Regions from separate parts of the Homo sapiens genome. Here region 2 is linked to region 1. The links come from fine-mapping of genetic effects on plasma protein levels. Region 1 holds a variant in brackets. A gene starts in the other region. All regions are shown on their reverse strands.

The links. PIP is the chance, under the fine-mapping model, that this variant and not a neighbour inherited with it causes the effect. The UK Biobank Pharma Proteomics Project read protein levels with antibody pairs (Olink). The fine-mapping took linkage between variants from a reference panel, not from the people measured, so its PIPs are less certain.
Region 2: EDAR starts here. The variant in region 1 is fine-mapped to the plasma level of the EDAR protein (UK Biobank, PIP 0.98).

What each region holds. Positions count from the first base shown.
Region 1 is chr3:169,143,897-169,160,348 of GRCh38, reverse strand. The region is part of intron 2 of MECOM (MDS1 and EVI1 complex locus); the gene reads left to right. Among named protein-coding and RNA genes, the nearest start is that of LINC01997, 150 kb to the right of the region's middle. RefSeq lists a silencer at 10,851-10,910. The variant A/T (reference allele first, on the strand shown) is at 13,587.
Region 2 is chr2:108,982,443-108,998,894 of GRCh38, reverse strand. EDAR (ectodysplasin A receptor) reads left to right here and starts at 9,675. Exons shown (of 12, transcript NM_022336.4): 1 at 9,675-9,935. It also overlaps a transcript of RANBP2 not described here. RefSeq lists an enhancer at 10,701-11,202.

The sequences.
Region 1 (16,452 bases):
CTAGCGTAATTTTGAAGATTCTTATTTTTCTTCATTTTTTTTTTATCTGTCTCCAAAAAAATCCTTTCTCAGAAAATGTTTTTCCCCATTCGGATTGCAATTCCTGGCTTAGTGTTTAGACACCATTATGAATTTGTATTCCTATCACTTATTTTGGTTATTCTTCTCTGGCTCTATATGTTTCCATCTCTGTTTCTCAGAAGCAAATTGCTGCCTGAGTGACCAGAAAATAAATTAAAGGGACAAAATATTTGTTTCTCTTTTGATATAAAGATGGCTATATAAAAATCCACCACCAACAAAAAAAACCACAGAGGGCATTTGCATAGGAAGTACCAACGATTTTATTGAGTTAGAACTCCATTTAAAAATAGCTCATGCTTATTAGGTGCTTAGTATGTGCTAGACACTAAATTAAGTGCTGTGCATGGATTACCTCATTTCATCCTCTCAATAGCCCTATGAGATACTTTTTATCATTATACTCATTTTACAAAGGAGGAAACCAAGCTGATAAGTAACTTTACATATGTCACACCCCAAGCACATAGCGAAGCTGTGATTTGAATCCAGGCTGCCCCACTGCAGATTCTGTGTTGTTAGTCACTATCCTAAACTTCTTTTTTAAAATTTTTATTTGGATTTATGCTATCTCTCCAAGTACTGTACTTCTTTATGAGTCTCTATTTACCAGATATTACACTAAGTGCTTTATATACTTCACCTCAATTGTTTAACCCTAATAACTTCTTAGAAGTCCCATTATTGCAATTTTATTTATTTATTTTTTTGAGACGGAATCTCGCACTGTTGCCCGGGCTGGATGCAGTGGCGTGATCTTGGCTCGCCGCAACTTCTGCCTCCCGGGTTCAAGCAATTCTCCTGCCTCAGCCTCCCAAGCAGCTGGGATTACAGGTGCCCACCACCATGCCCAGCTAATTTTTTGTATTTTTAGTAGAGACAGGGTTTCACTATGTTGGTCAGGCTCGTCTCAAACTCCTGACCTCGTGATCTGCCCACCTTGGCGTCCCAGAGTCCTGGAATGATTACAGGCATGAACATGCCTGGCCTGCAATTTTAGAGATACTAAAAGAGAGGCTGAAGAAGTTGAAGCAACTTTCTCACTATTACATAACTAGAAGCAGACTCCCTCAAGGGTGTAACATCAGAAGGCTATGGTCTAGCAGGAAACTGTGGATGAAACTGATTGCTCATGAGGCCAAGTGTTTTCCTTTTTGCTGAGAGGAAGCTTGTAGTTTACTGGGCCCTAGGAAGAAAACTTCCTACCTCATTATGGCAGTTTACCATGTTCAGCCCATCACCTTCCCTGTGAAAGGCCATGGGAGACAGGAAGTTTGTGAAAACAGATGACTGGCACTTCTTCCTAGGTACGGGTGATTCGAGAGTTGAATTATGAGAGCCATGAACCTCGGTTATCACCTGGACCACACACAAAAAATTTTGGGGGCGAGAATAATTAGAGAAGTGCTGGTCTGCACCCCACTACGCATAAAAACACACTGTCTCAATTACTTATCTTGTCATTGCAATGGAATATTTTTCATAAATGAAACCAAATTCAGTGAATTTACATCTTACTGAGAGCTTAGGTTCTACAGTGAGCAGGTAATTGAAAATCAAGTATAATCAAATTTTTCCTCTGCTCAGCTCTGCTCTTGAACCATCCAGTGTTGGAATGGACCACCGTGGCTTCGGCCGAGCACCAGAGGAAGTGGTATATTTGCATTCAGAGGATGCATGGTGTGAAAAATACACATCTTTAAACCCGAGAGTCACACTTGATGGAACACGATACTCATAGTACAAAAGGCATTTGAACACTGATTCCTTTTGAGGAAACAGATGATTCGTGTTTCCGTCTCATGCTCTTTCCTGGGTAAAGGCTCATTCATTCTCCCTCCCTCTTTCTCTCTCATCCATACTCCCTGCCTTCCGTTTCCCTCTGTTTGTAATAGTTGTAAGTCTTGAACGTGTATATGTTGTGACTTCACTGTGTTTTCCAAGATTAAAATTCAGCAAAATATATTTTATGAAGACTTTTATAATGACCTTCTTGAAATCTTCCAACACTGATTACCAAGGAGATTATATACGGACAATGATAAACAGTTTTATGGTAATTTCTCCAGGGACGACAACCACCACCACATTTTTTAAAAGTTACGTAGCTAAAACACTTAGTGAGTCATTTAAATTTAATTAATCAACACTTTTTTTGAGAAATTTTGAACCTCGCCAGCTCTTGTAGAATGGATGTGGGGTGGAGGAATATAAAATTGTATAAGGCACAATGTAATATTAGACAAAAGTATGAGTTTAAAATGTTAAACCTGTAGTCATTTCAATCACCTTCCTAGGCTCATCATTTCAATGTTCTCCACATCATGATCCAGCTCTATGGTTTATTTATAAATTGGCAGTCCAGATTATATGTGGAGAGAAATTATGTGTGAATCAGGGTGCATATTTTTCTTTCCTCTTTAAGTATTTCCATTCATGTCCCTTCTGGCATCCCCCCCTTCTAGTTGTAGGGCACTGTGTTAGCAAACTTGGATTTGTTTTCCAGCCAAGAACTACATAGAAAACACAAATACCTTTGAGAATCTGCTTCTTGGAAGTTGACCAGTACTTAATTCTGGATTCTATAGACAGGCTATATTAAGATTTTATTTGAAGTTGAAGAATTTACTCAACAACATTTACAGAAAGATATTTTCAAAGCTACAGTTGAAATCAATGTCCATATTTTCACAATGATATAGAGATTGTATTGGTACTTTAATTGCTATTGGAATATTTTGACATTTTACCATTTGATATGTATCATAAGATGTGACACTCACTAAATGGATTATAAACTAAACATACTTTTCTGGCTCTGTAGTGTTGTTACTTTATTTTTTAAGTGTTTGGCTACAGTCATTGAAATAGTGAAATGAAATTTTAGGATTTCCAATGTAGAGAAAGGATAAATGTTTCATGAAATCATTGATAATGACTTAACACATTCATTGTTTCTTAACGCTGTAACAGACATCATAACCAAGTATAAGTAATATGCAGCATCCACCATCAGAGATTTGGGGTGGGGCAATTATTCTGAGGCCAGAATTGCCTGACTAAGCCTTCTTCCTTCCTTTAGTATACACCTTTTTAGGTGTACTTTCAATAGAAGCAAGCACGTTCAATAGAACACAAATTAATCACAGCCATTAGTGTTCTTTGCAGAGAAGACTGTGTGGTCGCTCCTATGAAATGTTCTGTTTCTCAGGATGAGTTAATTCATCTGGAACAACATTAGTTCATCAAGGTTTGTGGTTTATCTAAAGATCAAATTCCTGTAATTTTGTATGCCATCTGATTTAATGTCCAGTTAGTTTCGTGGTTAGACAGTCATGGGCAGGCATAACACATGAATCTAATATCAAAAACTGGAAAAAAGGTGAATTCTTAAAGGTTTAATTCAGGCATCCTTAGATGGAGATTGCACTGCTGCTTTTCTTTCTCCTAGGGAAATGCATATCTAGATAATGCCAAATCTTATTAAGAAAAGTCTAAATAATATAAAACATTGCATGTGAATATGCCCATGGTAAAAATCTCTGCTTTGGAAGGACTTTTAATGGAGGAGGATAGGAAGAAGTGGGTTGATCTTGAAATGAGATTGTATATATTCCTTTGGAAGGTTCTCAGGCCGTGTACTCAAATACAATTGTAATAGTTTACAGGCAAAGGATCGATTGGCTAGAGTTTACTGATAACCTACTTTCTTTGTGATCTTTATAGACTTTCCAAATGCTTTCAATTTGAATAAAATGTGGAAGCTTCATTTTGTCTTTATTTATTTATGACTGTTTTGTGGGGACTTTTTTTTATCAAGAGTTGAGAACAGTCAGTTGATAGAAAAATATATGTATGGGGAATATTTATGCTTTTCTGAAACAAAGTAATATAAAACTTTATTTACAAAATTGTTTTCCTTAGGTGTTCCAGTGGAAGAGGAGAGAGGCTTTCACATAAGTTTAATTACCTACGATGATGCCTGGTCGAATAAGCCAAATAGGTCTCTTTACTAAAGGATTTCCTAGACTTTTAGAGTTTTAGACTTAAGTGTATTTAGCACATTGGTGCTCATTGTGAAGCTCCAAGAGGGAGCTATCTTTATCCATTGGGTGAAGTTAGCTCTCTGAGTTGACCTCAGAGCCAATTTCCAGGGAATATCTGATAATAACTTTTCTAATAACCAATTAGAAAATGCTGGTGTGAAGGATGTTTCCTGCCATCAAACAGTATACAGGTAGATTGGCTGATCACAGAAATATCCCAAACTATTTTAAGAATAATGACTAATTAGTGAATGCTTTTAATATTACATACTGTAAAAATTTCAAGAAAGAGGGCCTGGAAGGCTTTGCAGGAGCTTGATGAATGGAACTATCACTTTGCCTACTTGATCTATTGTTTCATCTCCTGAACGCTGTCAGTGTCAGAGGTAAGAGAAGTGAAGGACCTACCTCAGCACAGTTGAAGGGCCAAGAGCTTCTATTCATATTTCCAGTTGTTAACCAGTGCTAAAGATTTGTGTAGAGGAAACAAGCAGGAAATGGGCCTAGAAAGACGATAAATTTGACATCAAATTGTAAAAGAGGAGATTGCATTTTGGATTAGGGGCTTTATTTTCTAGCAAATTGGGATCCATTGGAGTTTTTGTTAGTGCGGTTTTTCTTCTGTTTTTTGCTCTTTACCTTTTGTTTTTAGGTAAAGCAAAGCATTGTTATAACTTTGTTATTTTAGGAAGACTAATGTTTGGTGTAAAAATGCCACAAAAACTCAGGCCTAAAAGGACAATAGCCTTCACTAGACCAGTGCCAGTGGGAAAATGAGCACCCTGTAGAAACAGTTTAACAGACCAACTGAACCAATGACTATTTATTGGGGACAAGGGAAGGAGAGGAGTCCAAGATACTGTCCAGGATTTGTGCCCAGAGAAAGGAGAGAGATGGTAAAGAAATGGAAACATGGGGTAAGGCAAGTATGGCAATATTGTGCTATCTGGAGAGGCAGCAGTGGTAGGAATTCCTTTCTAAATCCCTGAAAAAGAATCATCACTGCATCAACTGATTCCTAAGGGGGAATAGTGTTAAGTAACCAACTTTGCTTGGATGTAAATAAAGTAATTCCCCATACATTTAGCCATAATTAATTTATTCTTACAAAAAGTCTCAAAGACAGTTTAGTTTATGATGGAAAGCTGTTATTGAAGATATCAGTAGGAACAAAACTTGATTCCGTCCTTAAAAATCTTACAATGGTCCTTAGGAGGACAAGAGCATTAAAGACACACCTGTAAGTAAGGAAGAACTGGCTATAAACCAGGAGAGAAGCACAGATAATTTGGGTTGAAGGATGGAAAGGTCAAGCCTGGGTGGTAAAAATCAGCAGACATAAAAAATGGTTGGTTTAGAAGTATAGATAAGATTTTATCTATGATAACCAAGGCAAAATAAATTATAGGCTGAGCAATAATAATGATAGCAATTAAAATTATAATAGCAATACCAATAATAATAGCTATTTTCTATTGACTATATCCTATATCCTCTTCATGATTCTAAGTGATTTACCTACATTGCCTCATTGAATTCTCAAAAAAAATGGAATGAATTTATACTGAATTGTTAGGCAATCGGAACTCACTGAAAAACTGTGAGCAAGGGAATAAGTAACAGCAGATGGTTGAGAGGATTAACATCAAGGACTTTAAACTGGTGGGAGAGTGAATGGTGGTCAGAGGATCTGGCAGGAGATCATTGCAATAATTCAGACTAGAGGTAACAGGCATCCAAATTAGGCATTCAAACTAGGTGAGAATGGAAGTCAAGGAAGGACCTGATCCATTTTTTTTTCAACAAACATCTACTAAATACTTGATGTCATGCATTATGGTAGACTCTGGGCAACAGGGGCAAAAAAGATAGACCCAATTCCTGCCCTCTTGGTACTTAAAGTCTGTCTACCAGGAGACATTGTAGAGAATAAATTTCCTGGCCTTGGTAACAAATATTGACCTAAAACTAGTCCAAGATGTGTGTGTGTGTGTTCCTACCCTCGTTTTTAGGGCTCTGGAACTCAATGGTATTCCACCTTTGCTGCAGAATACTCTCTCTTACTGACTGGCAGAGAACACAGTGGGTAGAACAGAACAAACTCAGCTGCAAGCCAGACAGAGACGGACATCTTCATGGGTAGCACAGCTTGAGAGAAAAAAAACACTTTTCTTAAAATTCTTCCCTTCCAAGGTCAGGGTAAGGATTAGGGCAACTGACACTGGAATGGAAGAAAGAGGAAACAAAACTACTTACACTTTGCTGTTCCCCAAAGTATAGGCCAGACTATCTTCCTCATTGTGCATGTATGTAAGTTTACTGTAACCCGTTACACAAACACAAATACTGTGAAACTTATAGTATTTTGACCTGTTCCCATGAACTCAGGGCAGTTCACACTCACGTTACCCAATTTATTTTCCCAACACTCGTAATAGTCTGATATTATGAAACTGTCATGGAAACCAACTCAAAGGTTAAGTGACTTACCCAAAGGTACACAGCTAGGCGTGGAGAGAGGAGGAAAATCAAGCTTCCAACAAACTTTCCCCACAAGATTATGAGTCTAAAAGCACTCTTAGATGGTGTATCTAAAGCTCGAGGGAAGAATCTGATCCTGGAGTTATTGCATAATGTGCTAAATACTATATTGAAAGATTGAATTAATTAAAATTAATAAAATAATGAAAAATGAATTCCTTATAGAGTTGAGGTTTTTTCCAAAAGCACTTACTACCTCACTAATTTAGTCCGAAGTTAAAAAGAATGAGGGATTTCACCTTTTGAGACTAATGATAATCGTAAGCAAAGTTATCTTTTATAAAATAAAAAGATAATAGTAAATTTTTCCTAGTGATATAAAACAACCAGTTGTCTGAACAACCAGATTGATATGTTATGCATTTTTTGTGACTGTCTCAGTTTTTGTATTTATTTTTTCATCATTTATTTCTTGAATATATCTTGTAATAAATACACATCAAAGAGTTAAACATCCCTACTTTTGGGAAATATTTCTCTATTGTCTCTATTTTGCTACCAAAGTTTTACAGTATTTTATTAACATTTTTATTTTATCATAATATTTTCATTTAAACTTGGTATAAATTTGTTGCTGTGCATTAACCACTCAGCATCATAGCTTAGGACTGAAACACATCAAAATAGTCCAGCAAAAAATATTTTAAATATGGCAACCTTAACTGGAGTTTAAAAAATAAAACTTTGAGTATAATAATTTATTCACCAGAGCGGTTGTTTCAGCAAAGTACTTCATCTTAGTTTCCAAAGAGCTGCTAGTTGTTACTAAATATATTTTAAAATAGAAGCAAAAAAGAAATCTGCTCTCATTCTGGCCAAATATACTATAAAATATTAAACTGTTAAAATCTTTGGCATTTTGGAGAAAGATCAGCTAGGTGATTATGCTTGTATAGTTAATTAATAAGAAAGGAAGTAGGTAATGGTTCACTGGGGAAACTTTTGTTATCACCATGTCTATTTATGAAGGATCCCATGCTGTAGGGACAATAACGGGGTGCTAATTCTGAACGCACACAGTGCCGTCCTACAAAGACATCAAGATTTGTAGGAAATCAACCCTCCAGCAGTCCTGGCAAGCCAGACTGACCCCAGCAAATGAAAATAATCAAAAGTAATTAGAAGCGTGCTGGACTACTCCTCGGAGAGCCGAATAGGAGAGTAAACATGCCTGAATCCTCGAGCCACTGCAAAGGCCCATGTCTGAGCTGTTAGGTGCCCTGACCTTGTCCACATAAAGATGTGATTTATGAAGTGCAGGGCACAGCAGCAGGGCTTCTGTCTTCTCCTGGAGAACCAAATTACTGAGGTGGAGATTAACATGCTTTCAGTCGGGCCCATTTCCAGACCAAGGGAAATTTTTTATTTAAATTTGTTTTATCTTTAATTTCCTCTTTTCTAACAGCACACCCCAATAGATAAAAAAAATAATAATTTAAAAAAAATAAAAAAAGGCAGAGTCCACCAAGAGTCACCAGTAATCTCTCTTCAGTGCAGTTGTGATATGTGTGTGGGGCTACGGACAGTCACAGCATTTTTGTTGGTAAATTTGTATTGTGCTGGACTGTTTCACTGGATCTGTCTGATCAAAGCATCACAGAATTCACATTCATGCTTAGAGAACAAAGCTTGCAAAATACTTATTAAATTAAAAAACAGAAATTATTAAAATTAAACAGAATATCACCTTAGATTTCATGGCTTTCTGATCTAGTTTATCTTGCCTAAAGGTCATGCTTCATTACAAAGTTTACTCTATTAAATAAAAAGATTTGGGAAAAGAAATTGTGGGTGGTAGAGAATTTAGAGGAGTAGGAGAAAGACAAATTGGGAGAAATATTTATATATGAATCAGTGGGAAGTCTCTTGAGTCCTAAAAGACATACTTACATTATTTCTTATCTTTGTGTCAGTTAGGTTAGGTAAGATTTTACAAAATCCTATTCTGACATGGAAAAGGAAGCATTGATTTTCTTTTTAAACACACATCAATATCTATACACGAAGCTAATTTAATTAGCAGGCACTTATTGTTCAGCCAAATGTCAATTTCTCAGATTATTTCATGCTTCTTGACATGAACTGTATGAAACAGGATTTAACAGAATCTCCATGAATAAAACTCCACTTGAGAAATGTAAAAATGCACATGTACGTTCTTGAAAAGCTACAAAAAAATAGAGTTAAAACAAAGATGTTAGGCTTGGAGTTTAGTGTATATTTAGCCACCTCAAGAAACCCAAAGCTGCAGAATTAAGGGAATTTAGACTGAGGTTATAAAGTGCCTTCCTCTATAAACTAAAAACATAATGTCAGGGTGAATGGGAACATACTTTATTAACTTTACGGTATTGAAAACTGCCAGCAAGTTGTCTTGTTTTTAAATATTGTCCTCTGCAGAGTGTTACAGTGCTGTTTGTCCACAGGAAGCCTATTAAAAGTGGACAGTGCAGTCATTTCATCTGGCTTTGGCTGGACTGCTTTTCTTTCCTTTAATGATGTGCTGGAATGTACCATGCCCATAGGGTCTCCATTAGCAGAACTTTTACTTCTGGGACGACCATGAAGTTTAAGGCTTAAAAGAGGCATCAGTTTACAGTCTTGTGGGAATCACTTGAATACTGGAGCACTAACTTCTTACTGCTTTAACTAATATATTGACTTATTTTAAATAAACAGTTACACAATGAAGGCAGAGCCAGTGGCCTTATTGGAAATCTTTGGGCTTTTTAAAGATTCTGCAATCCACACAGCTGGGGAAGGAAGGAAGGGGCCTGAGGAGGGTTTATGCCCTTTTCAAACCAGGAAGAAAACACATTAACCTCTCCCACCCCAGCCCTGCCATCAGCCAAAGGGGGATCTTTACAACTCCTAGAAAATCTATCAGCCCACACTCAACCCTCATATTTTTCCAATGCCCTTTTCCTGGTAAACAACAATTAACAGATCAAGAAAGAAAAAATAATCATTCCTTCTGGAAAAATGTTTTTAAAATCTGGTTCTCTTTTTAAACATCACTGATGAATCATTCCATTTTTTTCTTTCCCCGAAGCTATACATTTGTTTTAGTTTGTTCTCCTACTCCATCCCCTTAATATTTAGATCATCTGTCCTGATACATGTTTGCAAATTAAAGCTGGTTTGAGATTACAGTAAAACCATTATTTTTAATAGCCCATTTCAAGGGCAGTGCTAAACACTGCAGAACACGCATGTTACTGATTACTGCTGAGCAGACAGCGGCTTTTGCAGATTAATTTGTAACTGGGAACTACTGTAAACAGATTTCACCAGAAATCCCAAGGAATAAAGGGAATTGGTGATGGTATTTGGCTCCTTGTATTTATTTATTGTTTTAGAAACCTTCTGATGGAAAGCAAGCTAACAGGGGAAGAAGCAAGCCCCTTGCAAAATCCTTTTCCTCTAACCTTCTTTCCTGTTTCATTCACTTATTGGGGAAGATGGATCAGGTCTTCTAAATAATTCTTATTTAAATAGCAAGAAGACCCTTTCATGAGAAACAAGGCCAGTCTAACTACTGTGGGATTTCAGAACCCTATCTTTAAACTTTAAGTTGTGTGAAGAAAAAGTGAGATGACTCTGCCTTTACATGAAGTTATTGTTATATACCTAAAGGAGAAAGGGAGTGGGATGGGGTGGGGGAGAGGGGAGGGAGAGACAGACAGACAGACAGACAGACAGACACACACACACACACACACACACACACACACACACACACACAGAGAGAGAGAAAGAGAGATTAAGATTTAGTGTTTTGTTAGCTTCCTTTGCCCAGGTCCTTCTGATGATTTCCTTTAGTCTTTTTCACAATTTATTCAGTGGAGAACAAGACTGATGATGACGATAATGATGATATTAATATAATAATAATGATGATGCAATGAATTCTCCATTCTTCTAGGTACATCTTCCAAGGTCTCGGAGGGTAAGCGTTCACTCTTGGTTGTATTTGGGGAAGAGAAGCTCAGACGTAGGAATAGCCTTCTCTCAGGCTGATGTCTACATGCCTGGACTGCAGTGTGCCTTCCTCTCGTAGCTCGGAAGGACGCGGAACGGCGGGCGAGGCGGAAGGCAGAGCTGTGTTGCCGGCGCCTGGCGGGCAGAGGCGGGTTCACCTGGGTGGCTGGAGCCGCCGGCGCTGCGCTTTATTTCGGAGCGCAATGCCATCTACCGGCGTCCTGCCGTACCTGCAAGTATCCAGACCTTGAAAGTCGCTCCGCCTCCCCCCACCCGAAGCCAATATAGGGGAAAAAACTCGGAGGCCCTTTCCACGAAATCCTAATTTAGCCAGGACCTGCCAATGATTCCAGACGACCTTTTGTTTTCCTACCGACGTTTCCTCGTTTTGAAAGCAGTTTTGTAAAGGGCAAGGAGGTGGGGGCCGCAGGGTTGGGGCGCTGAGCTCCCAGACCCCCTGATCAGGCCGCACTGTCTGAAGCAATCGGTTCCCCAGATTACTTGTATTTAATACACAATGCATCATAAAACAAATCCCTCATCCTGACAGGAAGAAAATAGAACAGCTCATAGCTCGAGCCGGTCCAATTTATGGCTAAATTAAAAAAAAAAAAAAAAAAAAGAAAGCTCCGACAATGGGCAAGTTGAGGGAGGGCAGGAAATCAATGGCCACGAACCAGGAGCTCTTAAAGGTTCTCAAGCGCCCAACTCTACGGGAATATCTGACCGGGTTTTAGGTTATTTACAAAGGATTTTTCCTGTCCTACCTACCACTGCTGTGCGATTTTCTCTCAAACAATGGCCATTATCTGAAATAACAGTTCAATGTCACAGATAACAGGCCACCGAAACAAATTAGTCACCACCTCTTGTCATTTTCTCTCCCCCAATCCCTCCCTTTTGCTACTATTTTTGTTTTTAAATCAATATTTTGGGAAAATATAGTTCTACTGGATTTACACGTTTATTTGCACTTGGAGAAAACAAAAAGTGGGTGGCACTTGTGTTATCCCGTTTGCAGCTAAAGTTTAACCGTCAGCACACTTTCCAGCCCCTCTTGCCCCACCTCTCCCCCGCAAGTGTCCCTAGACTCGCTTACTTTGCTTAACTTTCCATTGTTGAGCTGGGGAGTTGGATTTTGTCCATTTGTTTTTATGAATGGAGTTTTGTGATAAAAACGCGTTTACTTCCATTTAGCCAGTGGGATTTACTAAATCTTACAAAGTTGGCCATGAATAAATCTGTAGACCCTTTTGTTTTGCTATGTATCCCCTGTATTCTTTCTTCCAATGTCTTTTCTACAATGTATTGGTTTAAATGTACCCAAGGTATATTAGAAAGTTATTAAACATAGGATAGTACCGATTACTAAAAGCAGCATTTATGATGTTAAACGTTCAAAAATAATCTGAGTCGTCAAATTGCTTATTGCACGTTTTGGCGTTCAAGGTGTTTTAATTAATGTATCAAAGAAAATGGCAAAGACTCACCAGACAGTCATCAATCTCTCTAAACCCATAATATGCTGTTTGGGCGGGTTATATGCCAATAATTTTTCAGATTTTAAAATATCTTTAAAGAAAAATATGGTTTGAAAATTTTGCACGCCCTTCCTCTGACCTAGCTACAAGAATGAAGGGAATAAATTAGAGTATGAGTTTCAATTAAAAAAATTTTTTTTAATGCTTAGCAGAAAACTGGAAATGTACATGTCAACTTTTCACTCTTGAGGTTGCTGTTTTCTGAGAATTTCTAAACTATTTATATTTAGTCTGAACTAGCGTCCCTATACCCTAAGCTTTATCCTCCCCACTCCAGCACTACCTCTCCCCCCTACCCCCGCCCCCTCCTGCCTCGGTGCACACACCCTCACACCCCTGAAAGCACTTCTCTACCCTTCCCCATCCCTCCCATCCCCCATCTCTCTCTCTCTCACACACACACATGCACACACACACTCGCGCGCACACACACACACACACACCACACTTGTGCTTTCAAGACATCGAAACGGAGGCTATTTCCCTGGGGAAAGAAATCCTGCCTGGCGAGATCTCCCCATTGGTTGTTTACCCGGAGAAATCTACATGTTTAAGGGGGATGGTGCATCCATAATCAGTCTGTCCCTATAGGACTTGGGTCTTGGCGACCTTTTTGTGACCTCTCCCGCCAGAGGAGGCTGCTGTCACTTTAAAAATTTAAAAGAGGAGCCCGTCTGGCTTCCGATCAGATCACTCTGGGCGGCGGGAGATAGCTCCCTTTCTCCCTCGCCCCGGGTTCTTTCTGGATGGCCGAGCAGATCCTCTTTAAAGAGACAGTTCATGAAATAGAAACCCGGCGGCTGAGCTTGGAGTTGCGAAAGGGGACGATCCCGTGAGGGTCCAGGACCCGCGAAGGCGCTGCGGAGGATCTGAAAGGGGGATAGAGCTCCCCTCGCCTCCCCAGGCCCCCCACCTTTTCAAACTCTCCTCCTCCTGCTTGTTTTCCCCCATTGGAACTGGGAAGGAGAAGTAGAAGTTTTAGTGGGTTTCAGATAACTTTCATTACACATCGGGCTGATAAGAGCAAGAGAAAGTGAGAAAAGAGGGAGGTGATGTGAACCAGAAGGAATAGCTCCGAGCTCATTTAGGAAGGGGGAAAAAGCCAAAACACACCAAACCCGGGTCACCCAGACGAAAGAAGACTTCATTTCTTGTATTAAAAATACACTGTTGGCGGACAATAAATCCGAAACGCGTGGTCCTGGAGAGCAGATCCTAGAGACGGACAAAGTTGTCAGAGACCCATTTGGAAATCGAGACGCGAGGCTTTTAAAAAATTATTATTATTATTTTTAAACATCTCTAAATGTTGCTCGGGATCGTTTGAAAGGATTTTCGTGCAGGAGCGTTGGGGGCTGCTGATTATTTTATTTTGTTTATTTTGATTCTTCTGTGA[A/T]TGCCTATTATTGCTGAGTTGAGGCCATAGAAATCTAAAGGTAAGAGAACTCCTCACTTTAAAAGGAAAAAAAGTCTGGGCGATGTGAAAGTTTGTCACTTCGGACAGTTTCCTGCCGGGGCACCGTTTCTACGGGCGCCCCCCGCCCCCAGCCTTCTTTCCTCCTCGCCCGCAGTCTCGCGGAGCCCTGCTGCTTATCTACGTTGCTAAGCCGGGCGATTTCCTTGTTCCTCCTGCGAAACGGTGCGGTCTGGACACGTCTCCGGGGTGGGTCGTCCGGCCTTCGGTGGGTTTCTCTGCCGGCTTGTCGGCCTCTTTTCCTTGCGCTCTTCTCCTCCTTCCCCTCCCTCCGTGTGTCTCTGTCCGTCGGTTTCGGGGACGCACAAGGTGCGGTTGCCAAAATCTGAATTCCTGGCACTGGCCACGCGACTTTGGAGCCGCTCTCGGCCGAGTTCCACCTTGCCAAGTAACAGCTTTGCTGTCCAACATCGTGTGCTGCTTCGCGAGAAAGTCACATTCGGACCCTTTGGCTAGATTGTGGGGATTTTTTTTTTTTTCCTTTTGCTGTTGGTTTTTTGAAAGGGCCTTTCTCTAAAGTCTACCTAAACGGTTTTTTTTTAAGCTATCTTTGGAGGTTGACAGCTTTTAAAAACACAGGAGTGTGTTATATGAAATGACTGAAGATGTGTCGTTACTTTATTTTATTCGAGATTTCCGACACGATTAAGACATTTGGGAGACAAATGCAGTTCTGCTAGCAAATCAAAAGTGAATAATTCACCCAGGGGGCAAACGTTTCTGGAGAAAGCTAAGCTTTTGTCTTGGGGCAAGAATATTGAGAGGAAGAATGTTAATATGATGGTGAAATCTTTGAATAATCGTATAACAGATTAGTAAAAAGACATTCTTTGGAAATGAACCTTTTTAAAAATTAATTTTGCTGTTGACAGTGGCAATGCTAATAATGTTAACACGGAATAAAATTACACCTACAATTTTTATGTGCAGTGTATGTAATACTTAACTCCCTGCCCCTGTGAAAGGGTATGCTTGAAAGCTAAGGGGATGGATGCTTCTTGACTTTGAAATTAACAAGTTTTCCACGTCTCTCTGCAAATATGAAATGGAATTAGTATTGCATTTCACTGGCTTTATTCTATGTCCTTTATTAAATATTTCTTTGGTGTGTCAGGAGAACTGCCTTTTCTTTTTCTTTTTTTCTTTTTTTTCTTTTTTTTGCCAGTCAAGGAAACAAACAACAAAAGATCAACCAGAAACCAAACAGACTGAACAAACCAACAAAACCCAGCAACAAACTCCAACTTTTTACTATTTAAAAATGTGCATTGCTATTATTTATGTACCTTCTCAACATCTGGGATGGGGGGAAATCTCAAGTTGCCATTTGAGTTACTCAGCACTGAGAGTTGAAGAAACATCTTAAAGTTTGTAATTTTATTGATAACAAATTTTTAGAATTTGTCCTCTTAATAGAAAGGATGTTTAAGTGTACACTTCTGTCGTTGTTAGTGTGAAGAGGCATCCTTGAAAAAGAAGAGTTTGATTTCTCTCTGTGTGTGTGTGTGTGTGTGTGTGTGTGTGTGTGTGTGTGTGTGTGTTTAATAATATCCCTATCTTATGTTCGATTTTTCTTTTTTAAATTTTGGGACGACTTATTGCCCTTCAATTTCCTCATGGCCAAAGGCTTATTCATAGGGCTTCTTGACTAAAGCCCTTGGAGCACTGGGTTTTTCTTGAAGTATATGGTGAGTTAATGACTTGAATCTGCAATTGGGTGATTGCCTGAATTCTATGCAAAATTGCTTTTGGTCTCAGTACTCAAGAGTTTAATTTTAACTTTTATGTGGTTATGCATACAGCAGAGATCTGTAGGAGTTATTTAATTCAATAATTTTTGTTCTAGGTATATTGCTTAGTCTTTGATAGGAAACTTCCTCGTTTGTATTAACTGATTGACATAACATTACCATCCTTTGTAGTTATTCACCATCAGGTCAACAACTCTACAGCTTTTAATATTGATGTTTAAGACATTATTGCTGTTAGTGAATCAGAATAGCTTGGTTTAAGTACACATGATCTTAAAAATGGAAGTTTCCCTCTTCAATTTTTGTTTAGTGTGTCCTAACTAATGATTAACATTTAGATGGGCCAAATGTAAAATTTCATGAAAAATAACAAGATACAAGTATACCTAATGATGGCAGTTCATTACAGTATTTTAATATATTTTTTATTTGTTCACAAGGAGCCAGCTTTATTTTGCTTACTAGACAAAATATTGAAACATGCGTTGACATGTGTTAACTAAAACCTGAGTTTGCCATACTTTGCATGAGTGTTTCCGAATTCATTATTTTAATTTGTTTTTCTTTAGTTTGTTTGGAAGCACCTATAAGACAAATCTTATTATCTCCTTCAATTAAGAGTGTGATTTAATTGTTTCATGGTAATGAGATGCTAACCATGAAAAAAAAATTTAGATGGAAGTTTTTAAATTAAAGTGCAAAAATGTGAAAATATATGCTTACATGAGACTATACGAATATGAAATATTGACTGTAATGTTTAGAAATATTATGTTAATATACGCTGTTCAATATTATTTTTTGCAAAAATCACATTGGATAAAATTAGCACTAATTTATGCATATGAAAATAAGCATTTTTGAAACCAATTAATCAGTTTTTGTAACAAATTGCAAGTGCTTTATTCCTTTTTAAAAAAGCAGTATGTTGTCATTTTCAAGGTAACTTCTCATTTCCCCTCTATTAATGTGCTTGTGATCTGACTTTTTTTAAGGATCCAAAGAAGGAATATACATTTCAATGAAATATTTTCAAA
Region 2 (16,452 bases), not on the chromosome of region 1:
CCCAGCTTTCAGCCTTCAGGCTAGAGGACACCAACTGGCCACCTGGGGGCCTGAGCCAGGCTGAAGCCATTTTTTGTGTTTACTTGGGCCACACAGATAAGTTGCCATATTTAAAAATGGGAAGATGTTACTTAAAAAAAAAAAAAATCCAGATCTTTGAATTTCTTGTGGAGCTCTGTGGTCTGCATCCAGGAACACTTGGCAGGGGCCAGTGAGAGGGTGCCTTCATTATTAAGGTCAGTGGCTGGGGCTCGGAGTTTGCATTTTAGATAAATCACTGTAGAGGCTGGGTTGAGGAAGAGAAAGTCAGAAGCAGGATAAACAGTGAGAGAGAAGACGCTGAAAATGATTCTGTGATCTCTCCTTAGGAGGATTAGTGGTGGTCCTGGCTGATTCAGGAAACGAGGAGGATTGGATGTGTTGAGGGTGTTGTTTCCAGCATCTCTGAGACTTCCCAACGAGATGTTTTCCACTCCACGAATACAAGAATCAAAGCTTAAAAGACGAAGCCTGGGCTCAAAATTAAGTGCAGGAGTCGCCAGGCTGATGAAACAATGAGCCTGGGAGAATATGGAGACCCTAGCAGTGGGACCCTGGAAACAGCATTATCCGAGGGGCAGGTCGAGATGAATGGCCCACAGGAGACCAAGAATAAACCAGGAGTCAGGTTTCACAGAGGAAGAAGAGATCATGGTCTTGTTGCATGGCATTAAAAAGCTCCAGGAGCATAAAGACTGAAAGGTATCTACTGGCTTTAGCAATTAGGAGGTCCCTGGTGACCTAGGCAAGAACAATCCCAGAGTGTAGGGAGAGCAACAGTTCCGGTAGACTGAAGAGTGGATACAACCATCTCACTGCAATTCAGCATGACCCATAAAAGACAATCACCATCATTCAGAGATGCACACTGATACTTGCCGAGGCTGAGGACTTAGCCAGCTTGCTCATGCCAGGATGTTCAGAGCAGTGTCTTGTGTTTTTGTTTGTTGTTGTTGTTGCTTTTTGAGACGGAGTCTAACTCTGTGGCCCAGGCTGGAGTGCAGTGGCGCGATCTCGGCTCACTGCAACCTCCGCCCTCCGAGTTCAAGTGATTCTCCTGCCTCAGCCTCCCAAGTAGCTGGGATTACAGGAGCCTGCCACCATGCCCGGCTAATTTTTTGTATTTTTAGTAGAGACGGGACTTCACCATCTTGGCCAGGCTGGTCTTGAACTCCTGACCTCGTTATCCACCCACCTCGGCCTCTCACAGTACTGGGATTACAGGCGTGATCCACCGTGCTCGGCCACAGAGCAGTGTCTTAACACCAGGTCTTCAGGCTCCAGGGCCAGATATCCAGCCAGCCATCCTGCCTCTTTCTATCTGTTAGGTATGCCAAAGGTTGGAAATGCAGGTGTTCTCTGGACATTTCTAAACCCTTACTGACCATCATCTTTTTTTTTTTTTTTTTTTTTTTGAGACAGAGTCTTGCTCTGTCTCCAAGGCTGGAGTGCAGTGGCGCAATGTCAGCTCACTGCAGGCTCTGCCTCCTGGGTTCACACCATTCTCCTGCCTCAGCCTCCTGAGTAGCTGGGACTACAGGCGCACGCCGCCACATCTGGCTAATTTTTTGTATTTTTAGTAGAGACGGGGTTTCACCGTGTTAGCCAGGTTGGTCTCGATCTCCTGACCTCGTGATTTGCCCACCTCAGCCTCCCAAAGTGCTGGGATTACAGGCGTGAGCCACTGCGCCCAGCCATACTAGGACATCTTATGCTTCAGACCCACTGGCTAGAGGTTTTGTTTAAACAGAATGAGGAGTTTAGGAAAGTTTCTGGCAACAGAGACTAGTTACACACTTGAATCCCATTTTCTGCTCCTGGACACACAAAAACACTGCACTCCCCACCCTTACAGCAGTCAGCCTGGAGGCATGTGAGTAGATGCTAGCCAACTGAAGTGGTGTGCCACTGCTGGGCCTGGTCCTGAGCATCCCATGTGCTCATCCAAGCCTTTGCTCCTGTCTGACCTGAGAAGAGGCAGATGGTGGGGCCACAGGCTGGAAGGAGTTTGGGTTTCTGAGTCACTGCTGGCAGGAGAACCATCTGGAAAAGCCACCTAGCCCGCATCAGATGTGACATGAGCAAGAAACGAGCTATGATTGTATTATGCCACCGAGACTTCAGGGTTCCTGTGTTACTGCCACACTGTTGGCCTGTGCAGATGGATGTTGCTGGTAAGATCACTGATTCAAAGGCACAGGACAACAGCACAGCAGGCTTGGGCTCCATGCTCATGGGCAGGGGGGAATGGAAGTAGAAGTTTCCACATACTCTCTCCCAGTCAGTGAATCCCCTAGATCCCGTCTGGGGTATGTATTTCATTGTTGAAGTCCATGGCGCATACCGTTAATGGGCCTGCTTAATGAGGCCAGTGTCCTGGTGGCCACTCACCTATCTGGAGCCTTTCTTATTTACTTTGAGCTGCTCCCAAGGAGTGTGGTTGGACATTACCAGCCACCTTGAAGGCATGAGTAGAGGAGAGCTCTCTAGTGTCCAGCCCAGTTTGGGATTGTGAGAAACTGTGCTGGACTTAAACGTACATCCCTGCACCTGGGGTGTAAAGATCCCTAAACTGTGTGGCTTAGGGTGGAACCAAGACCCAGACTCAGACCTTCCTGGGGTTCAAACCTGGTCAACACCAGAAGCCTGGCACCTATCCCCACTGTTAGGCAGCAGGGAACTCTCACTCTTCACTCCCTCTTCCCAAATCAGAATCTTTCCAGTTAGTCAACACTTCATTTCCTTGGGGAATCATTTTATACTATGAATGATACCCCAGCAGAACTGATATGAAAGCTAAAATTGCCATAAAGCAGACTTTCTTAAACCTTGCTTATCTAGAAAAGAATAAATTGCATATCCCAATTTTTCATAATGAGAAACTGCAAATTAATTAGTCTTTATTAATAAGGCCTGGCTACAGTGGCTGAAAGACATGAGGGTTTATTCTTTCCCATGAATGAGGCAGGTAATTTGGGCCTGGTGGGGCAGCTGCACAAGGGGTTGGAGCTCCTTCCGTCCTACTCTGATGTCTACCCAGCTGTCATGTTCACACTCCAGGTGGCAGCAAAGGGGACGCATGGAAAGGGGCAGAACAGCTTCCTCCCAGATGAGTTGGCAGCCTTTTTGGAAGTCTCTGACACCTGCTGTGGCTCATTGGACAGTTCTGAAGCACGCGGCAACATCTAACTGCAAGGGAAGCTAAGAAATGCAACCATTTAGCCAGGCATATTGCTCTGAGCAGAGCTGGGAGATTCCTGCTGGAGAAGGGAGGCTGGGAAGAGGTGGCAGGCAGCAGCTCTGCCAGCCAGGGTGAATTCCTGTTAAAATGCCTGTTTATTCCCATTTTGGCTTTCTTTTGCTGACCACAGCTTTGGGGATCTTTGGACAATGGGTTCATATCCATAGCAGGTGAAGAGTAAGGGAGAACTAACATGCCCCCTGCAAGAACACATTAGCCCTTGTAAATCAATCGTTCCTCTGCCTTACAGATTACCTGCAAAATGTTGTAATAGGTGTGATTTTTAATTTCATTAATTTGGCCAGGCACACCTGTATTCCCAGCAACTTGGGAAGCCAAGGTGGGAGGATCACTTGAGCATAGGAGTTTGAGGCTGCAGTGAGCCGCAGTCTCACTACTTCACTCCAGCACAGGTGATGGAGCAAGACCCTGTCTCTAGAAAAAAATCCATTGATTAATAAATACTAATAAATAAAACCCAATGCGGCCGGGCACGGTGGCTCATGCCTGTAATCCCAGCACTTTGGGAGACCGAGGCGGGTGGATCACGAGGTCAGGAGATCGAGACCATCCTGGCTAACATGGTGAAACCTCATCTCTACTAAAAATACAAAAAAATTAGCCAGGCGTGGTGGCGGGCGCCTGTAGTCCCTGCTACTCGGGAGGCTGAGGCAGGAGAATGGCGTGAACCCGGGAGGTGGAGCTTGCAGTGAGCCGAGATTGCACCACTGCACTCCGGCCTGGGCGACAGAGCGAGACTCTGTCTCAAAAAAAAAAAAAAAAAGATATATATATATATATATATATATATATATATATAACCCAATGCACAGATAATTTTTTATGTTTATACTATGGACCCATACTTCCCTGCTTTTAGATATCCACTGGTTAATAGCATGATAATCCCATGACCCCATAATCCCCTTTCCCCGGAGCCATGATTTATGATAGAAATATGTACTTGCCTATTGGAAGGATGAATTTGTTGATTTTCAAATGAAGATATCAATATTTCATATTTCTAAACTCAGTTTTCTCCCCTCTTAATTTTTCTGGTATAGTGCAAATAGGTTTTATAATACTCTTGTGGTTTCCTTTATTAGAAAAACATAGTGATGTGTACTGTTGAGCTAAATGACAATATTACAGATCGTAAAAAAGATTTAGTATTTGAACCTTTGCACTATTCAAGCTCGTAAAGCCATTCTCAGCGAGGATCAATTTCAATTATGTTTTCACTGCTTACATAATGGAGGTGGTGGGGGCCGTCTCAAACCCTGGCTGGGGAGCAGAGAGAGCTTAGGCCACGGGAGAGGGCATGCCTTTGCCCTGCACGAAGCTCCTGGCCTGAAGCTTTCCTTCATCCATGGAGGTGGTTCATTATGGTCCTTCCTTTATGTGACCAGAGTCATTATTGACAGCTGTGTTCCAAATCCAGCTTGCATTTTTAATAAGGTGTCCATGGGGGGAATCCTGGGCAAATGGGAAGTGCTGTGGTCTGGGTGTCTGTGTCTCCCCTGAAATTCATATATTGAAATCCTAAGCTCCTAGGTGATGGTATTTGGAGGTGGGGTCTTTGGGAGGTGATTAGGTCATGGAGGCTAGAGATGGAGCCTCATGAATGGGATTAGTGCCCTTGTAAATGACACCCCAGACAGCGGCCTCACCCCATCTGCCATGGGAGATGACCAGACACTGGGTCTGCTGGGCACCTTGATCTCGGACTTCCCAGCCTCCAGAACTGGGAGAAACAAATGTCTGTTGTTGAGGCCTCCCAGCCTACAATATTTTTGTTATAGCAGCCCAAGCTAAGGCAGGTAGCCAAAGGAAAGCCAGGCTTTTGTTTAATCAGTAGCAGGGGGTCAGTGTTCAAAGTTTAGTTAAATAACTAAATGCAGAATCTCATTCTCCAATAGGGTACAATCAACGCAAAGCCCAGCTCTTTCCTCTGCCTTTGACCTGGAGCTGTCCCATCTGAATTTATGCTGGGGGAGGACAGATCACCCAAGCTTGACAATGGTTCACATAGCATTTCATCTCCCGGTATCTAGGTGACACCCTAAAGGCCCTCCCTCTGTGCAAATACTCCCCCAGACTTAGTCTCTCCCTTTCCTCATTTTGCTAAGGATAGTGGCCCATTTTACTTCTAAAACAAGTTTCCATCATTTTCAAATCATGATATACTTGGAATAGAATCCATACCCTTTTGTCCAGCCCCCACGTGGAATGTGGTCTCTACCACCCTTCCTGGGCTGGGCTCAGCTGCCTCCCAGGCCAGCTCCCTGCTTTGTGGCCACAGTTTCCTGTCAGTTTCCTCAGCACACCTGGCTCTGGGCCCCACAGGACCTTTGTACAAGACCTTTGGTCCATCTGAAACACCTTCTGCCCAACTCTGCAGGACTGCCTTCTTCCTTCGCAAGTCTTGGTCAACTTTCCTTCTCAACAACCAAAGCACCGCCCCTCACACCCCCTTACCCCCACATCAGCTTGCTGGTGTCCGCCGTATCACCCAATTCCATTCTCATATTTTAGGCACATTTGCAAGCCTAGGAAGGTGTGGTTCCTAAGAGAGACTTTAAATCACAAATATTTATATTCCTGTTTTTTCTGCCTATGGAACTGTGACCACATGAGTAGCGGGTGCTCTGAGATGATACTTTAAAAACTAGCTGGCCAGTGCTGAGGAGGGCAGAGCCCTGTGAGGTTACCACTGACAGAGCTGGGGACAAACGCATTTTAGGAAAGCAAAGAAGCCAGGCCAGGTCAGTCCTGGGAGCCACTGTGCCACGAGGCAGGGGCAACGTTCTTCCAGAAAACAGTCCCAGTTGTGGGACAAATTTGAAGCTGCAAACTCTACACTATAGACAGAACTGTGATCATTTTATTCTGAATAACTTAGTGGGTGTCACCATGAGCATAAAAACATTTCATCAAATATACACACACTGTGTTAGGATTTGAGCAATGTCATTTCCTGGAAGGTTTTCTGAGATAGACTTCACCTGCAGGTAACCAGAAGTTTACTTGCTGTGGTGAGTTGTTAGGTGAAACCAATTATATGTCAGGGCCCAGCTGCCAGACAGGAGCATCTTGCTTTTGGAGTGTTTGATTCCCCTGCCACTTTTTGAGACAGTAATTAGTAGCAGGAAACTGTCACCAGCCAACTGATAATCCCCTCACATACAAACACAAATAATCCAGGCATCCTGTGCACCCTTGCTTATCACGGCCAAGAAGTACTTTTCATCTCCATTTCATAACTTGATTACTCTATGCCTCCCCAAACAGAGCATAAGCTTCTTGAGGCCAGCGATTTTGACTGTTGTTCTCATTGTGATCTACCCAGCAACTGGAACAGTACCGGCACGTAGAAGACGTGACGTGCATTTGCTGCATGAATAAACACATGAACATGATGGCATAGGAGAATGCTACTTTGATGGGGTACATGGGTATCAAGGATTTTCTTTCTGCTCACACAACATGAGATTTGTAATTAAGACACAGATTTAAGGTGAGTCCGGTGGCTCACACCTGTAGTCCCAGCACTTTGGGAGGCTGAGGCAGGAGGATCACTTGAAGTCAGGAGTTCGAGACCAGCCTGGCCAACATGGTGAAACTCTGTCTCTACTAAAAATACAAAAATTAGATGGGAGCAGTGGCACATGTCTGTAATCCCAGCTCCTCGGGAGGCTGAGAATCGCTTAAACCTGGGAGGCAGAGGTTCCAGTGGGCCAAGATCACGCTACTGCACTCCAGTCTGGGCGAGAGAGCAAGACTCTGTCTCACCAAAAAAATAAAAGACACAAATTTAAAATCACGATGACCAGAATATGGCTCTGTTTCACTCACTGGAAATTATCTGATCTGCAAGATAATTCTTACCAACCCCTGAGTGTTTTTTACAGGGATGGGAGTCCATTGACTCTCTAAAATCACTTGCGAAGTTTTGTTGCTGCGGAGCTGAGAGCTGGGGCCAGCCTGCCTGTTGTGCCCCTCCATAAGACTCCTGGCCATGCATTTGAGCACACCTCATGAAGGGGGCAGGTGGCTGGCCGGGCTGTTATGTGTAGCAAGCATGTGTTCTAAATTACAATTCATTTGTTCTAAATTACATTCATCATTTCTAAATTTGTTCTAAATTTAGAACACAGCCCCAGGAGACCCCCTTCACCCAACCATGTTCTGCAGTCTTGATTCATTTTCTTACTTAAAAAATGCTATTGATAACCTGTTGCTATTTCTGCCTCAGTCTCTTAGGAAATGTATAAAACAGAAAATCACATATCTTCAAAGCTCTGGAGCTTTACATGATGAAGATAAGCAATGATTTCTCATTTCATTCTTTCTCTTAATCAACTGAATTAATTATATACTCATTTTCATTTGGATATGATGACTAGGCAGACTTCAAGTATAACCATCCATAACCTTGCTTAATGCCATGATGTTTGGATTTTTTTCAAAGAGAGGAAAAAACTCCCTTGGCTTCTATTACAGCATCCATATTTTGTGCCATTTTAATTTTTTCTTGTGTCTTTTTTCTCTCTCTTTGGGAAATATCAGTATCATTCCTTTTGGTAAATTTTAAATCACCACTTAATTTCCAATAGAAAAAATGTTTTAGTTACACCTAAAATAATCCCAAACCTCAAACACACTGTGAGCACACCAGAAAGTAAAAATTATATGGAGTAGAACAGATTAGCCCAGAATACCTCCCATTCATTTTCCCAGGTTCCTAATTTAATAATTTCAGTGACTTTAATTTATCACAGACCCTCAGTCTGAACTCGGCATGAGCAGGGTAGACAACCAAACCTGAAAATTCAAGTTAAAATTCTTGTTTGGGAGCTTATATTATCTAGATTAATCATCCACAAGGATCAAGTCAGCTAAGTAACTCTGGTTCAGCTTAATCTCTGTGGAGGCAGAATTAGTCCTTTACAGTCTAGGTCCTTGCCCCAGCCCCATACATTTCTGTCTGCTTTTTTCTTTTCTTTTCTTTTCTGTTTTGAGACAGATTCTCGCTCTGTTGCCCAGGCTGGAGTGCAGTGGCACAATCTCGGCTCACTGCAACTTCCATCTCCTGGGTTCGAACAATTCTCCTGCTTTAGCCTCCACACATGCCACCACCGGCTAATTTTTGTATATTTTTTTTTTTTTTTTTTTTTGAGACGGAGTCTCGCTCTGTCACCCAGGCCGGACTGCGGACTGCAGTGGCGCAATCTCGGCTCACTGCAAGCTCCGCTTCCCGGGTTCACGCCATTCTCCTGCCTCAGCCTCCCGAGTAGCTGGGACTACAGGCGCCCGCCACCACGCCCGGCTAATTTTTTGTATTTTTAGTAGAGACGGGGTTTCACCTTGTTAGCCAGGATGGTCTCGATCTCCTGACCTCATGATCCACCCGCCTCGGCCTCCCAAAGTGCTGGGATTACAGGCGTGAGCCACCGCGCCCGGCCTAATTTTTGTATTTTTAGTAGGGACGGAGTTTCACCATGTTGGCCAGGCTGATCCCAAACTCCTGACCTCAAGTGATCTGCCCGCCTCAGCCTCCAAAGTGCTGGGGTTACAGGTGTGAGCCACGGAGCCCAGACTGTTTCTTTCTTAAGCTCTTACTTTCTCATGTGTGAGTTACCTTGTAGGTTTCCAAGGCAGAGGGGACAAGATGGAAAAGGAGAACACAGAAATCTAGCCTGGAGGAGCTGCTCTGTTCCTGTATTTATCTGTGTAGGTGTGAATGAGGGAGAAAATGACAAGAGAATGACATTATTTTAAGGCTGTTTTCCCCCCCCCAATCATTTACTTTTTGAGAAATAATTGCCCAATACTGAAAGGTATGTCCTTTCAAAATGTTGATGTTTCAAATGGCTTCCTAATTACCTAGTTATACGGGGGGTGTGTATGGTTATCTGAAGTTACATGGGTATACACTGGTGGTGTGAGGTGTCCAGAGAGAGGAAAGGAAGAGCAGTCCTGGTGGCTCAAACCCTGAGGGATGTGCGGGGGATGGGTGAGAATGTGAACAGACATGTTGGAAGCTGAATCCGTGCAGTGGCACCCATGCCTGTAGCCATCTCAGTGGGGGGTCCTTCTACGAACAAGCTTTGATTAATGATATTTTAATGCTAGTTTAGCTTTTTAGCACTCCCACGCCTAAAGGCTCTGATAGAAGCAAGGCCCCCACCCCTGCAAAAAAAAAAATCCATGATTTTTACGCATTCCAACAGATCTCTTAAGGGGCAGACGGCCGGAGAGCCAGGTGTGCCAGGGACCTATGGCAGCAGGGCTGAACGTGCCCGCTCCAGCCTCTCCAGTGCTGGGAGAGACCTCTAGATGGTGCAGGTGAGTTTGCAATGAGGGAAAGCCCCTCGGCAAGGACTGAGTTTCCAAACTTGCAGACAGGGCAGGGAGCGGTCAAGGAAGAGTTCCCGGGAAGCCCTTTAAACGGAAAGGAAGCGGGGCTAGTGTCAGAGAGGTGTGCCAGGTCCCAGGCAGCCCTGCTGGCCCCTAAGGACATAGAGTACCTGCTTCTGAGAGGGCTGCCACGGTGGCCACCTGTGAAGCCTGTCACCCAGAACTGGATGGTACCTGACTTTCTTCATAGACCCATCTTCTGCTGGGACTGAAGCTGACCTCCAACAGAAGCCAGGTAAGCCCTGGTCCTTTCCTCTGGTTTTCTAAACTCTTCAGCTGTGGCCGAGACGGAGGTGTCATGGGCTGGGAGAGAGGCTGGGTGCATTTTTGAAATGCATGTCATTTTTGGGTTGCGTTTGAACAAGCTTTACCGATTGCAGTATGTCTGCGCTACCAGTTCTAAGACCTGAGATTGTTCCTTTGTTTTAGAAAAACATCAGAAACCCTGTTTTGCTGTTGGTTGCACATTTGGTTAGGGAGACAAATTCTGTGTGTGCTTCACAGGCTTTAAGATTTGGGCTACTGAAGCAACGGGTTCCTCCAGGGAGCGTGAAAAGTATGTTTCTCAGGTTTGCCCCTGTGCCCGGCTCACTGGGGAAGGCAGGCGCGGCAGGGACTCTAGCTGGGCTCTGTACCTGCCTCCAACTCTGCGTACCCGCTGTGACCTAAGAGACCTTCCAAGTGGGGTTTCCAGTCGTGTCTGAGACCCCCCATATCCTGGCCTCTGTGTTGGTGGCGGGGGAGCGGGGAGAGGGAGAGAAGGAGGGGAGTGGGTACCTATTTGTGATGATTGAGGTTTTCATTTCCAGCCAAGAGGTTCCTCTCAACACTCTGACAGACCGTGGGGTGGGTTGGGCTCCTAGACAGGAGTCGGCTCTGATTCAGTCGGCTCTGATTCCCAGCCTCCTGCAGCAGCCAAGCTTTGAGATGTCAGCTCAGGGAGAAGCGGGTGGCTGGGCAGGGAGGTCAGCAGGCGAGGTTCCCACTGGGTTTCCCTGCCCATGTTGTGCTGGGTCAGCAACAAGAGGGACAGTTAAAATCAACAAGCAGGGCAGATGCCGGTCAGTGGGCAATCCCACACAGCCAGGGGTACACGCATGTGAGGAGACGTACGGAGAGACAGGAGCACCACCGTCCTCTTCCCCAGTCCCCAGGCCACTGCTCTGTGGCTCTCAAGTGGCATTTTTGAGACACTTTCTAAGCAAGAGTGAAAGTGTAACAAAGAAGTGAAGAGCCATAATAGACTGAAGGAAAAAAGGGATCCAGGCATCTAAAATAGAGAATGTTTCTTGCCTGGCTTAATACTCTGAGATTTGTAAGTCATAGCCACTTAAAACCTTTAAAGATACATTTTGACAGAGGCCACCAAAAAGAGAGTGACTCTGGTCAAGGCTTGGAAATAAGCGTTCGTTCCGATGACAGTCCACGTGTACCCTTCACGGCTGGGAAAGTTTGGCGATCCTGGTGGCGATTGGCCGGGGGTCTCCACTGTACCCCTCCCCATCCCTAAGTGGGCCAGGCTGTGCTGTGGGAGGATTAATTTGTGACAGCACAGTTGGAGGATAATCTTGGAAGGACCAGTCTTTGGGAGGAAAAAGTAAATACACTTTCCCTGAAATGCTTGATTTTCACTCCCTGGCCACTACCTGGTTTCTTGCTTTTGTGAGCTGGACTTTCATTTTGTTGGGCATACACATTTGTGAAGCACAGACATGTCAGGGGCTCATCTTTGTTTCTCAGGCATCATGGTACCCTCTTGCCTAGCCCAGTGCCTGCCATTGGGCGGCAGCCCAACATTGCTCCGGAGTGCAGACAGACCTGGTCTTACCCCATCTCACGGAGCGCAAAACCTACTTGCCTCTGTTAAATGGGGAGCCTCTTCTAGTCAAAGTTCCTCAGGTCTCATAGGCCCACAGATGGAAGCTGGGTTACCTGACGCTCCTTTCTGGGTCCAAGTGAGTGCGTTTTGTGGTTTCCAAAGAATAGAATTTATTCTCAAGGAAATGCCCAGGAACCCAGCTTCAAAGACTCAAGCAAATCTGAAATTCAAATACAGGAGCTGTAAACAGGATGGTGTTTGGCAGACAGCCTTGCTGCTTAAGTGGCTCAGCCCCTCAGCTGGGCTCAGTTTCCCCTCACCCTCCTCCTAGCCTGCCTAGTGACTGCCTGCATGCCTCAATTATCCTGGATGACACCTGCCTGCTCGTTCCTTTGATGCTGTTTGAGGCTCTGCCTAGGTATTCCACCCACCAATAGTATCATTAATTAACTTACATTAAGCCCACTTAGCACATTAGATCAATTAGGGGACAAAAGCCCCAGCCAGCCTTTCCTGTGAGTATGCCGCCTCCATCTCAATGCCTACGATTCTGTCCTTACTGAATTCGTATATTGCAGGAAGGAATTTTTTTTAAGTCCCAAAGATTACTATTTTCCTAAAAAATAAAGCAAGGAAACATAAGCTGATGTCTAATCATTTAACCTCTGCTGTACATTTCTATGGCACTTTACAAAGCGTTGTCATGAATGTCTTCTCTATTTTCCCAATAAGGAAATTGAGGCTCAGAGAGGTTCACTGTCTTGCCCGAAGTCCCACAGCTCATAATGATTATGGGAACACCAAGAACTGGTCTAGGTTAGCACTCAGTATGCCCAGGCCTCGTGTGGAGCCTGTCACTCATAATTGGAGGGGCTGAGACTAGAACCTGTGTCCTCTGCCTCCAACACTGACACATTTGCCCCCACAAGGAGATGGTGCAATGACAGCCACCAGGGATTATAAAAATAAGAGTGGAGTAAGCAAACACTCCCCCTCCTGTATCTTAGTTTCCCAGGGTCGTGTCAGCCCCAGACACACTCATCTCCTGTCCTCAGAGGCGAGGGATCAAGAGGAAACAGTCTCAGTTTTGTTCTTTGTGAACCCTCCTGATAAAAGTTAGAGTGTTTGTAGTTTTTATATAGTGAAAAAAACTGTCAAATATAGGCCATTGTAGGTGGTTCAGTCTAAGATAGTCTAGTAACTAAAAAAAAACTCAAAATGGCATTTGGGGCTCAGGCATCCCAACAGCCCACTGGCCCCTGAGACAAATGAGCTTGACCATATTTAATTTTTCATCATTGCCCTTAGAGTGTCACAAAGCATTACCCAAGGATAGCTGACCCTGTACAGTCAAAGCTATGAAAAAAGCTTTGCCCTGGGTCTTGGCAGGGATCAGCCATTCATTAGGTCATGTATTAAGGGATCCTACAACCTGAAGTGTCTTCAGTCATAGCACACCCCAAGGACATCATGCACTCCATGAAAATATGTCCAATGAATGAATGAATGAATGGGCTCCTTCATCCTTCTTGTCAGAGAAAGGTCACCAATTGTTCCAATGACACAGTTAGGGACAAGGGGGCTGCTCAAACATCAGCATCCCCTAAGTCAATAAGCAAACAAATCCTAGTTAGCAAAGCTACCCTCTCTGGGGGCAGAGACACCTGTTATTTCTCAAATGCTGGATGCCCAAGGGTGGCAAACACACTGTTTGGACCCCAGGAAGGAGCAGACACATGTGGGTGAAGCTGGAGGTCCTGCTTCCTTGCCCAGATCCTCTTGCCCAGACACACTCTGGAAATGCCCATCATTTTATACACCTACGTACACATGTAACCAGCCAGGATGCCTTTGTTTTCCATTTCCGAGAAAACAGAGGACTATGGAAAACAGGTGGGCCGTAAGGAGCCCTACAGAGGAAGATGCACCTGTGGCGGTAGCCCTGCCTGCACCACCCTGCGAGCTCATGCCAGCTTAACTCACTTCACGGTCAATCAGACCTACTGCTCCAAACACAGTAGGAAGGCGCGCCTTCACTTGTGAGTCGGACGAAATCAGCAATGAGGGCAATAACAACCACAGTCACGTTACTCTTAGTAACAGCCCTGAGGCCCGCAGTGTAGCACAGAAGCCAAGCTTAGTGGTGGGCTTAAGGCTGATGTTGTTAACTGATACCATTCAATAGCTAGATATAGGCAACTAAAAGGTGAGCCCAAATACTGAAATAAGATACAGTATTAGTCTCCTGAAAATAAAAAAGAGTTGATTCTGCCAACAACACCTTAATCCTGAGAGAAAGCACTTTCTTAGGATAGAAGAAAGACATGCAAAACCAGACTGCAAGCAAAAAATGAGAGGGCATGCACTGTTTTGACGACTCTCAGATGGTTACCAAATCTCTTCTCTTAAAACTTCCATTTGCCATATTTCCAATCCCATGTTTGCACAGAATCCTGCATGCACAGGAGGAAGCAGGCAGGATTTCAAGTTGGTTTTAGTGCACATTCATTCATTCAGCAAATGTTTTCTGGGCATCTGCTACATGCCAGGCACCATGCTGGGATGTAGTGAGTAACACAGTGGTCCCATGGGTGAGGAGAGAGAACATCCCTGCACTCACAGAGCTTAGATTCTGCTGCAGGGAGAGAAGCTATAATGCATAAATCCAGCGCCATGAAAAAAAAACAAACAAACTAGCAGGGCAGGTAGAAAGAAGGTGCCCAGGGTAGTAGTGGGGGCCTCTTGGGAAATGAAATAGTTGAGTAAAGACCTGGATGAAGTGAGGGAGTGAACCAGGACACCCGCAAGAAAGGAGGCCCTGGGGTGGGGTGAGCTGGAGATGTCCCAGCACCAGCAGGAAGGCCATGCTGCCGGAGCAGAGGGAAAGGAGGGTTGAACAGAAGGAGAGGAGAGGAGAACCAGGAGCCTGAGCGGGCCGTGGCAAGGGGGCTGGGCTCTCATTGAGGGTGATGGAAAGGCAAACAGAAGTCAAGTCAGGGCGGAAGTTCAGCCATGGTGGCTCACGCCCTGTGTTGTTCTGGGACAGTCAGTGCCCACACCACCCCATCCCATGCCACGCCGGTTGCTGTAATTTGCTTCTAAGGAGCTGGGTCTCCAAGTAGCCTCTTCCTGGGAGAGTTGGCTTGGCTGAGGTGCAGGGCAGGAAGGGCAGGCAGCAGGAAGGGTGGCAGGAGAGGAATGATCCATTTTCACCAACACCTGCTCCCTTGGCCGTTAACACATGCCAAAGGGATCCATTCTGAGAAAAATTATGAAGACCCTAACCTGAAACACATGATTACACTTCCAAAAATCTGAAAGTAGATTATCAAGACTCAATAAGTTGTGCAGAGAAAGAACACTTAGCAACAGACATCGCCGTCGCCCCCCTTGCAGCCCTGCTGGGACACTCCCACAGTCGCAGAGCCACTGGCCAGCTGCACTCGCTTCCTCCTCACTTGGAGAGAGGGACACCTTCCAGCATCGGGTGTGAGATGGAGTGGGGACGCAGTGGCTCTCTGATGGCTCAGTTGGCAAAATTGTTGGAGAACGGGTTCAGAGATCACTGATGCCCTTGGCCAGCATGCCAGACCTGTTCCTGTTGACTCCATATGGCCTTTGGAGTTGGAGAGAAGGTGGCTTCCCTGCCCCGTCCCGCACGGAGCCACCAGCACCTGGAAAGTTTGATTTCCTTCCTCGTATCTGGAAGATGCAGGTCGATTAGGAGGGAAGTCAGTCTGGAGGAGGATACCTGTCTCTGGGAACTCCAGGGCAGTCAAGGCAGACAGATGGATCACGAGGGAGGAGCTGGAAGGGCGGGATTGTTGACTTGATGTCTGGTTGGGGTCTGATGAATACAGGAAAGTGGAAGGCCACGGGGAATGCTCCAGTGGGATGCAGATGTCTATTAAGTTGGCTGATTTTATTTACCCAGTTAGATGTGGTTTTATGGTTTACTGTTTGGATTGAGGCTCTGTGTCCTTGGGTAATAAACATTACCTCTGGCCCCAAAAAATCCTAATCCTTAAAAATATGGAAATGCACTGAGCATCCCTAAAAGGTACTTTAGAGGAGTCTCAAGGTTCATTTTCTTTAAGATTTAGTCCTTAATAAAGACTCAAAATGGCTGTTCCTAAAGCCTCCTGTCCATAATGAAGAAGATAAATCAGAGTGTACACTTTGGGGATGTGTTTGTTGACATGCGGCATCCTCTGCAGAAAGCCTGTATCTCCAAGAAGCGTGGCCAAGGGAGGGCACTGACAGCTGAGTTTAGAGTGGGATTTGTAAGCAGCACAAACTAATTGTGCATCGGTAGATTTGCAGAGTGTGGTTTTCTGTTGATGGATTTCTTTATGGGCAATAAAATCTCCAATAAGTACCATTTACATTCAGCAGAACTCTTTTTGAATTTTAGCTCATTCTTAGAGAGATTTGGAGAGAGAGAGACCATCCCTGCACATGCAGCAGGCACCTGGCCTGTCTGGGTGGCCAGTCCTTGTTCTGTGGCCACTGTGAACCCCGCCAATGTCCTAGTTTCCCGCCAGCACTCACTAAGCAATTTTGCTTCTCATTTTACGGGCAGACGTAACCAAAGCAAGGAGACTTAGGTGACTCGGGACACTCGGTTTTGAGTCAATTCTAAAAACCAGGAGACCAAACTTTCTCTAGAATTACTGCCAGTTGGTTTCCAAATTGAGGTTTCCAGATGAAAATTATTATCCAAACAGACCACACACAGCACTCTGACTTGCCTTCTGTGCCTGGCATGTGCGAGGGAAATGGCGCTGGAGAATATTATCCTGATGATTATCACAGTTGTTGCTTTTGAAGGCAAATATTTATTTTGTGAAGATTGCAAAATGAAGTACAACAGAATGTTGAGCTCCTCCTTATGTTTACAGAATAAACAGAACTGAGACACTGGCAAACGCCA